2 linked regions of the Homo sapiens genome follow. The main gene of each other region encodes a partner of the protein of the gene in region 2 in a complex. Each region holds a gene or a part of one and is shown on either strand. Other genes may lie near its edges.

Region 1 (3,558 bases), on a different chromosome or scaffold from region 2:
GGGCATCAGGCCTGGCCATTCTGTTAACGTGCAATGTCTCTCTGGGCAATCTTTGCACGTGTTGGGCTGGGAGCTGCACCACAGTCTGAGGCTCTTCCTAACCACCCCTTTTTTCCCAGGTGTCAGATTGGCATGGTGGTTTGAAGGCTGTCCCTGAGTACTTCTGCTTTCTTTCCCCTTTGTCTTTCTCAGATGTTATTCCCCCCAACCTCCTGTCCTACGAAAACTCTTGTGCTTATAACTCTGTTGTGTCTGCATCCTGACACAGCTTTATTCATAGGCAACATCACTGTCATTTCGCATAATCCCACCTCCCTTCCCAGATCTCAACCTGGGAACTGTTCCCACATCTTCCCAACCCATTTCATCACAGAGTTAAGAGTTTACTGAACATTGATTCCATCCTTCTAGCTATGCAAGTTATTAGGGTTTCTAGTACCATCCCATTTAGCATCCTATAGGATGTTTAGGACCCCTAGAGAAGAGACAGAGGCACGAGAGAGTGAAACACATACTTTATTTCTGTATAAAGATTCTTTCCAGGAGACCAGGCTGGAAAACACGGAAACCTCAGGAATGGCCCCTCTCCACTTATACTCCTCTCCTCACAAATCAGGCCAATGAGGTCAGTTCCTGAGTCCCCTTTCTCCAGGATTCCACTCAGTCCTTGTCTCTTAGTGTCCTGTTGGGGGATAAGGAGGAGAAGGACTCTTGTTCTCTAGCTTCTCCGATAAAGGCCCCCCCACCGCCCCTCAATTACTGTGGTCTAGGAACTGTGAGTTCATGATATACATCAGGGCTCCTCCCTGAGAAAGCATGAGGAGGAAGAGGAGGAAGAGATTCACACAATACAAATATCACAGTGACAGCAATGAGATCTCACATTTTGGAAGTCACGTAACAAAGATGGTTCCTTGATATTTCATATTCTATTACTACTGGACATTACACCAAGTAAACACACTTGGATAAACACAGGGTGATGCATTTCTAGAATAAGAATGTGACCCATGCACAGTACAAATCATGGTGTTTCTTACATGTGGGAGTTGATGACATTTTTATAAGTTAGTGGACATTGGAGACTGGGTCAGAGGAAGGCTTGCTGGCACTGTCCAAGCAGATGCTTTGCCATATTGGAAACTGCCCGGACCACCCAACATTCCCTCTTACTATGCACAGAGATGATACTGTTCAACCAAATTCCTTTAGGTCCCCTGGACTGACTGCCAGCTCCCTTTGGAAGTACCCCAGAGAACTCTCATTCCAGAGGCTCTCCAAAGGTCCCAGTCTTTGGCTTGACTGCCCATGTTGAGTGTGGGTTTTTAGAATTCTGTGGAGAATCTGTCCTCTCAGATGCCTCCAAGACTGCTGGGCAGCTTAGACTCACTAGGACTGGTGAGTTAGTTAGTGATGGCCAATAAGGTAGGCTCTTCAAGAGCTGCAGGGGCTGTGTGTTCCCAGTTCAGGGCAAAGTCCAGAGGAGGCACTCAGTTAATCCTCGTTGAGCTCAACTCTAACCTTCTCTTCCATAGATGGGGTGTCCCCAACTTCTTGACACCATCTTCTCAGGTACTTCTCATAATCATGTTAGCTCTTTACATTCTTCCAAAGTGAGTAATCCATACACAGCAAGATTCTCTATTGGAAGTATGACTAATGCTTAGGGCACTAACTTTTGTTGCTTCTAAATTTTGTCTTCCATTTATATATCTGCAATGATCTGGCTTCACTTAGTTTATTTAAAACTTTCCATGCTGCTTTAGAGAATGTAGTTCTTGAGGTTTTCTGGCTTATACTGTTTCTTCTTCCCCCAGGCCTGTGGATGCCCTGGTAGAATTAGAGCCAGCAGGGCTGGCAAAGGCTGTAAACCATGCATTATTCTCCCCTTAATGTTATGGATGCGGCACATGTGCATCCATTATGCAAACTACCAGGAGGACATTCATGGATGTTACATGAAGCTTCTGCTTCCAGCCATATCTGGAAAAAACACAGATTTGGGAGACAGAAAAAAAAACAAAACAAAACTGCATGCTCACCTTCTGGAAACTCTAAATCTAAATTAGGATATAAAGCATTCAGTTCATGGCTCTTGGAAGACTGACTGTCCTTTAGGGTTGATGAGTCATTCTACCCCTTAGAGACAGGAAGCTGGCAAAGCCATGGAGCAGGGAGGAGACATTCAGAGAGTCTGAAGGGAAGATGCAAGATGCCCTCTTCCCAGAAGTGCAGCTGCAAAGTGCAGCCTTCTTGCTTGTCGCACATATGAGCACGATGCTAGTGTAAAACTAAGAATGAAGGTTAGGGCCCCCACCCTAAAATACCCAAAAGGTTAAAGCAGGGAGCCCACATTTGTCTTCTCTGACAGTGTTCTGCAGCTATGAAATTCTGCCTGCTAAAGCTGGATGGATGCAGGCCTTGGCATGAAGTCCTCTGCTCTGTCAAAAGCCAAAACCTTCCATGAGAAGGAATGTACTCAGGATTTTAAGATAAATCGGAGAATGTCTGAGATGGATAGTTACAGATGGCCTTAGCAGTTGCTACATCTCCAGGAACTGGGTATTAGTTACAAGACTCACTGCTCCTATTCTTTTCTATTCTTTTATTCTTCGTTTTGTTTTTTTTTGTAAAACAAACAAAAAACTCATACAATCCTTGAACCACGGGATGTTAAGATTCGAAGGAACACTTAGATTATCTAGTTCAGTCCCCTTGTTTACAAGTAGGAAAAGAGGGTCAACTACACATTAAATGTAGTGCAAGTCTCCCAATTCCTGGTCTGTAAGAGAACTAGCAGGTATCAGTGGACATATTCTGCTTGCGTCGGCTGCTCAGGACAGTCACCGGGGACATAATGTGGAAGCCCGAGGTTCTCAATCTCATGATGTATAAATGTACTGAAATACTGAGATGCCAAAAAGGGGAATACATATGTTTCTTTTCACAGATGCTTAGAAGACAGGGCTAAATTTTTCATTTAGATGTTATGTGGTGCCTTCTTTTGTTCACCCTGTCAAGCGTAGGCTGGGGTGATAGGAGCCTCCAGCTGCAGGAGGCTAATCTGAGATAACTTTATTGAAGTAACACGGGGCTCCAGGAAAATGAGTCTTCCGGGTCCGCAGCTGTGCTGCAGAATTCATCCTGAAATGAGCACTCGCATGCAGCCAAAGTCACTTCCAGAATGGAATGAATGGGCTTTTGGGAAAAGCTGGTCCGACCTTTTATTTTACAGGCTCAGCAAAGTTCAGTGATTTGGTTTGAGTCACACAGCATGAGGGTGGCAAAGATAGGGAAGAATTGAGATTTTTTGACTCAAGGATGGAATGTTTTCCCTAACCCATACTGACCCTTTTTGCAAGTCCCAGTGTGAGGGTGTTTCTGATGGTTCCAGATGAAGGGAATTTCCATGCATGAAGGGAGGCAGGTCAAAGGCAGTGGGGGCTGCACCTGCCAAAGGCCCTGTGGCCTAGGAGAGCACATTGGAGGAGAAGCTGAAGCTCTCTGTCATGGTCTTGGAGTCACTTCGTGAAGAGCAGTTGGAGGTCAGGTCCAGGG
Region 2 (6,960 bases):
ATATTTGCTCTATTTCCCCCTCAGTTTATTTCCAATCCTGACTCCTATTATAATCTCTGACCCCAGCATTTTGTTAAGCTTCATAACCCCATCTGTAAAATGATAATAATGACGATTATTTTTGTCATTGAGTGATTAAGTACATATATAATTTTAGCTAATGATTATTTATTATAATTATTATTCAATGGAATGTTAAACATTGCTGTTGGGGAGTGGGGCTCTAGGGGATGACTCTGGTTTTCTCCATTTTGCTTACCATTATATAATTTTTCATATTTAGATGTATTGTGTACTAAGGAATATGAGTTGGAGTTTTTTAAAAAAACATTTAATTGAAAATATGTATGTTAAAATATGCTTTAGCTCTTCTCTCCTACAAATGGTTTTATTGCTCACCAACAGTCACCAGTCCAGGCTAAATTCATTTTTTTTACTTCACTGAACAGTGCTTGTCTGCATTGTTTCACCACTGGTCAATACTTCACATGCTCTATGCAATCAGAAAATGATTCCAAGGACACTTATCAATCAAAATGCACAAGCCTCCCTCTCAATGCTTGGTATTTATTCCTGACGCATGTGCTTCTATCAGACAGAGAGAGTGTTATAGGTATTAGCAATTCACAGGCACTTCTTAGAAATGCTGGAAAGGAGTTCTTATTTTTGCTGTGAGGGTGTTGCCCTATTATCAACACCTCATCTTCCTGTATCATCTTCCGACAATCTTTGTGAGAATTTGATTTGCTATCTTAATGCTAGTGAGACTCAGGCACTGATGCATTTATACCTGGGCTCTGAGCAGGGCTGAAATGGTAGTGAGCTGATGTTTTACTCAACAAGAAAATAATCAGTGAAATATATCTTTGAAATAGATTATTATCCTATTTGTAAAAAGGAATTAAAAGCATATAAAACCAGAACTTAGCCTTTACTCTTTGGAATGCAAAATGCAATTGTGTTCTTCATAAATGATCTCATGACAAGTGATTTAGCAAAAAAAGTGCATGACAGAGAAACTGCATTTTAGACAAAACCGCTTTGAACCTATTTCACCTATTAAAGGAAAGATTGCTAATTGGACATAAATGTTAATAAAAGACATGTGACAAAAATCTTCAAGATATTTTTTCTTTTATTTAAAATGTTAGCTATCACAACACATCATACAATGAAATGAAGACATTAGAATCACATTGAAACTTTTAAAAACATCTCTATATAGTCACAAAACATGAAACATGCTTCAGAGATACAAATACAGTGTAATACCAAAATCTCAGTACATTTTCACCATGAAAACAAATAGGAAAAGCACAAGACTGTCAGGAGTTTCCTTCCTTTTCCGCAGTAGCTGACACAACTGCTTCAAAGCAATGATTTTTTTTCTTTAGGGACTGTATCATTGACAGGTTTTACAATTTCATTTAACACTGTGCTTTGTTGAGAAATAACCACTTATTTCTATTTTAAGGGAGTCATCATATTGGAATTAAAACACATGTTTACAATACATATTGGCACAATATGAAAAATAAACACTTTTTGAATTTTCAACCCCAAACAATTGTTATTAAATAAATAATTATTCCTCATAGTGCATGTCTTAATTTACCTGTCATTGCCCATTGACACAAATGAAGCTGAATAAATAATGTTAGGTAGTTTATTAACGTCTTCTTTCATAATTCTGCATTGCACTCCTTTCATAAGCCACTGAAAACAAAGAAGAGATAAAGTGTTTTTTAAGTGAATTCACTGAGGGAGTTACACAACTAAAGTTCAGGGCATATAGTAATTTATTTTAAACTCATAATGACATTTTCCCTCTACAGAAGTATTTCTAAGAATGTTATCTGCACATCTTCCAATCCTGCCTCAGTCTCTATTCTGATTGGAAATGATCTAACCACAGAACTCGGTTTCATTCATCATTCATCATATACTTGGTGCCCCCAAAGCATATTTCCACAATATATTGCAGTGTTGATTCTCAGCAGCTTTCTCAAGCAGTGGCAGATACCCATAGTGAATTCTAGAAAGGACAATGCCTAAAATAACCAGGAATACTAGTAGGATAAAAACCAAATGTGGGACTTTTATTCTAGCAGAGACCATGGGCCAAATCTAGAATACCATTTGTTCTTGTAAAGAGGTTTATAGGAATACAGACACACTCATTCATTTACATATTGTCTATGGCTGCTTTGGCCTAAAATAACAGATTTGGGTAGTTGCAACAGAGATTACATGGCTCACAAAGCCTAAAATATTTATAATCTGTTTCTTTTCAGGAAAAGTTTGCTGATCTTTGTTCAAGGGGCATCTAATTGTGTAGGGGTCTCTTCCTACCTTGTGGATACCTCCCAGTGATGGACTGCCCTCAAGACTAAAAACAGCCCATTTACCATAGGTAAGTCAGTTGAGCCATCTAAATACCATACTGTTTAACTTTTCACTAGCACCTTAATGGCCTGTGAAGCATTAATTATTGCTTCCAAAGGTATTTAACATATAGCTAGCAAGTAATTTAAATACATTGATTATCTGGACAAAAAAATGCCAAAATTGTATATTATATTATATTATATTTATTATATATAATTTCAAAGGGATCTGTAACCACAAAGGGGTAAAAATCAGACTGTTGCAATAAAAGTATTTTGGGATATTTTTCATCCTTAACGAATACCTTATAGACTTAGACGTATGGTATAGTGGAACTACTATGCTTTTTGAAATTCAGTATGGCCTGTATAAAATACTGAATGTAAACAGAAAGAGTAGAAAGATCTGTGAAGGATCTGTAGGAATAATAAGTGCTACTCTAAACAGTTTCCTCAGTGAGAAGATTTGCTGACAGAGAAGACAGGTAAAGGCACCAGTATTATCACTTCCCTCTTTTAATACTGGTCTTAAACACCCAGCTATCCTTTAAGTGCGGTTAACAATAAGCTGCATATTTTACATCAATTAAGTATGCACTTGTGAGGCAGAACAGTCTGAGCCAACACTGGACAGGCGTGAGGGAAGGAAACAGTTTATTTCTCATTCTGGTTTGATTATATTAGGAACAGGATGAATGGCCCAAGTTCAGTCTCTGACAAGCTTTAGGTAACATGACTCTATTCCTCAGAGAAATTAGATGAAAGCTAATGTAAACCAACTAAAGACAGACAGTGATTTAGCTGGAACATAATGTCCTCTTACATGGAAGCAGAGTTTCTTACCTGGTCTTTGAACCCTCTGAAGCCTGATATAAATTTTTGAGTGTATGAGCTGATGAGGGTTTCTCTGGGAAAGGGCATCTATCTAGATTTATCAGATTGTCAAAGGGGTCCCTGACCATGAGTGGGTAAAGATCAGAGGGCTATAGATTAAGGCTATGATAACCTTGCCTCAATGAGGTACATAAAAAGATCCCTGATTGACTGTGGATCATATCACATTTTTTTCCACATTTCACCTATTTATATTTCCTTAACTAAAATGGAGGAACAAAGATTTAGTTATAAATTGATCCTGATTCACTACAGTGATTTTTATCACTACTTAAAATTATGTTATTATTTTAAGTACATTTAATTGTATTTAATCTGTTCTAACTTGTACAATATCTACATTTGTAAAGTTAAGCATGTTCTGAAACCTATATCAATTCTGGAAATGGAAAGTTGATGACTAATATGATTATCAAGAAAACTACAATTAAGTGAGGACTAGTATGTATTGGTACAAATAAAAGCCATTGTGGTTTAAATTTATATTTCATTTCCAAAAGTGGGAAGATAATACATATTAATAAAACAATTACAAGTTTTTCATTAAGGCACATTGATAATTTCTTACACTTTTACACTTCGGCAGCCCAAAATGACTGGTGAGAAGATGCAAAGGTAGTGTCTAAATAGAAAGTGGGGACCCAATAAGAACACTAGGAAGTCCTGTGGACTTCACCAAGAACTTCAAATTCCAGATTTATTGGAAATTTTGTATCAAAAGGTCAATTATGAAACACTTAGAACTTTTCAATTATATGAATATATTCTCTGGCTTCTGCCGTAGCCCAGATTGTGTTAACTTTTTTTTTCTATTGCGCGTTTTGATTTTTGCCCCACAGAAAGTGGTTTTATTTAATGTACCCAAGTCTTACATTTCACAATAAAGAAAAAAATCTCCATTAAAAAACACTAGGATAATTATTTTTCCTAGGATCCAGATAATTAAGGATTAAGCCAGCACATCTTATAGATTGTCTAGAAACTGGAAATATTCTAAATGGGTAAGACAGCTGCTGATTACTTTATAATTAATAACGTATTTAGTATTTTAATTCTATTTTCACTGAAGGCAAAATAGAATTTGAATAGCTTTTCCAAGAAGCCCTAGAGGTAAGAGCTATAAGGTCTTAACAAAAAGTGAGCTTCTATTAAAATGATCTAGGGGTTATTTACATTGAAATCAGTGTGATGAATGAGTTAACTAATAATGGTTTTCAGATATATGTACGTGGTATTTACAAAGAAGATGGAAATTGAAGAGAAGGAAACCTGCAGCCTTTATATCATACGAAAAAGTTGTTCAGAATTAAAATGAGAATTGTGGCATCCTTTCTCTCTAAGGAGTTTATAGCCAGAACCAATTTATAACACTCAAGGATATTTAATTGTGTTCCTTTTTGAAAGTACTGGAATAAACCGTATCACTTTTGTCCTCTCCAACATCCATCAGGATGTTTAGATTTTGAATTTCTACAACTTCATAAAAAGTGATTAATTTGCATAAAGAATTTGTTTTGTGAATTTATTTTTGTATTGGAAGATCGCCAAATGTAATGTCTTGTAAAACTTTCAAATTACTTTGATAACAAGTGAAAATCACCCTCATTCTTCCCTGCACTCCCCACTCCCCCTTAGTTCAGTAAGGTTAAACACGGCTTATTTAACAGATCTATAGGAAAGAATATAGCACTAACCCAAAGATTCAGGTTGGTAATGATTAAATGGGGCAGACACTGGTAAGAATGGTGATTGGAGAGAAATAGACAGATACTGTGGTAGTATTAGCTTAACCAGCTATAAATCCATTTGTGGTTACAAGTACAACAATTAAATTTTTCCACCATAATACTCATTTTTATATCTACCACTCCTTTTTAATATTTTAAAACTATGTCTTAGAAAAAATAGAAATAGATTTGAGATACTGTCTATTTTCAGTCATAATTTCATACATACCAGAATTTAAAGCTCTTTTGCCCATTAGTCCAACAAAGGAATCTGTTTTATGTCCTGGAAAAATACATTTAGGGGTATTTTAATATGTATATCTTTGAGGAAACAAACTATTATAACCAGAACAAAGCAAGCTTCTGAATATATGTCTGTATAATAAATATCTATCTACTTCAAGTTTTGGTGAGACTGAAGAAATAAAGATTCCTTAAAAGTTTTATAAATTACACTAAAACAATACAATGAAACCACTTTTCTTAATTCTATATTTAATATTAGCAAGCACTCTCTATTCATATATTTTATCTGTTATGTAAGGGTCTAAAATATTTTATATAAAATATTGTTATTTGAGCTAGGTTTGATTTTTTAGGAAGTCAATTTCACATTTGTGTGAGAGTGAAATATCCAAGCATAATTCCTTGTGTTATTAATAAGTTGTACTTCTCAGCAAGTAGACCTTAATTAAACCAGATTCCTTTCCTTGATGATTATAATCTTCTAAAAGGTCACTGTTTTTATTTTATTGGATATTAAAAGATACTCCTTTCAGAAAAGTTTATTAGTTTTCACATGAACAGAGTACATTTTTTATTACATAGAATTTTTATATATAATTCTCTTCAAAGTCAAATCCTTAGAAAGTAAATATGAATACTATTTATTTTTCAAAGATGAACTCTTTGGAAAGGTTACTATTTTAATGCTAGTGAGAGAATTTCTCTTGGTTTTTATTTTAATAGTTGAGAATAGAGCTGCTACGTTAATGTGGCCTGCTCTGCCACCCAATGAACCAAATCCATGACAGGGTACAATAGGTGAGTGGACAATACGATGAAGATAGACCCTTTCCACTTCTTGTCAACTCCGGTTCCATTAACTGAGAAACAAATTTAATGACCTTCACATACCACAATTTTGCCATCTTTGCTGCCCTAAGAAATGTTTTACTGATCGAGTTTTCCCATTCAATTAGGGGATTAAAAAACTGCATCTCTACCGTCTTCATTTTTAGTATGGATTCTCTACTCATGTTCACTCACTCATTCCATTTAATTGGCTGCTGGATGACCCTAATAAATGACATCATTATTGGACCAAGCATACTAAAATGAGTTAGGAGATGCCTATAAATGCTTGTGGGGGTTTCGTGTTTGTTTGTTTGTTTGTTTACAGTGAAAGTAAGCTTAGGGGGTGGGTGGCTGGGAAGAAATATGTATGGTAGATTTCTAATCCTAGGATTGAAATTCTTCTCTAAAACTAACAATTGAAGGGACTTAAAAGACATTTTTTTCTTTTTTAATATAATGCATCTCTTTGCTAAGTACAATATGTCTAAACAACCATATTCTGGATGTAATATGAATCTCCCCCATTCTTATATTGTCTTCATTAAACATATTAAGCCCTAGAGTCATGACAGAAAATAAGGTAAGATAAATAAAGTGAAATTCAATATAATTTTACATTTAAATTTGATAAATGTCAAAATAATTTTGAACTTACTTTTGTGAGAGATCTGGCCATGTCCTAGAAGAAAGATAAAATTAGCAAACACATATAGATTTGTTTTTAAAGATGCTACATTATATCTTTTATAAAATAATTTGATTCTCAAAATATGTAACATTTTCTATCTATATATTATCCTGAGGAATAAAGCAGAACCATAAATGCTAAACAAATTATTAATCATAAAAACTAAATATTTAAACAAACAAATGGA

Evidence for each region. Proteins that work in one complex are often made in the same cells at the same time.
Region 1: the proteins of TAC1 (region 2) and TACR1 are in contact, whole or in part, in a cryo-EM structure (PDB 7P02), measured with the Homo sapiens proteins. Residues at the interface, in NP_003173.1 of Homo sapiens: Lys60, Pro61, Gln62, Gln63, Phe64, Phe65, Gly66, Leu67, Met68; in NP_001049.1 of Homo sapiens: Gln24, Phe25, Asn85, Asn89, Tyr92, Ala93, Asn96, Trp98, His108, Asn109, Ile113, Gln165, Met174, Arg177, Val179, Cys180, Met181, Ile182, His197, Val200, Phe264, Phe267, Phe268, Tyr278, Leu279, Ile283, Gln284, Tyr287, Met291.

The regions. Positions count from the first base shown.
Region 1 is NC_000002.12:75,045,963-75,049,520, forward strand, and holds the end of TACR1 (substance-P receptor), read right to left. Parts: coding exon 3,470-3,558; 3' UTR 501-3,469; downstream 1-500. UniProt on the Homo sapiens protein: This is a receptor for the tachykinin neuropeptide substance P. It is probably associated with G proteins that activate a phosphatidylinositol-calcium second messenger system.
Region 2 is NC_000007.14:97,734,630-97,741,589, reverse strand, and holds the end of TAC1 (protachykinin-1 isoform beta precursor), read right to left. Parts: intron 6,765-6,960; coding exon 6,741-6,764; intron 5,292-6,740; coding exon 5,238-5,291; intron 1,717-5,237; coding exon 1,670-1,716; 3' UTR 1,118-1,669; downstream 1-1,117. UniProt on the Homo sapiens protein: Tachykinins are active peptides which excite neurons, evoke behavioral responses, are potent vasodilators and secretagogues, and contract (directly or indirectly) many smooth muscles.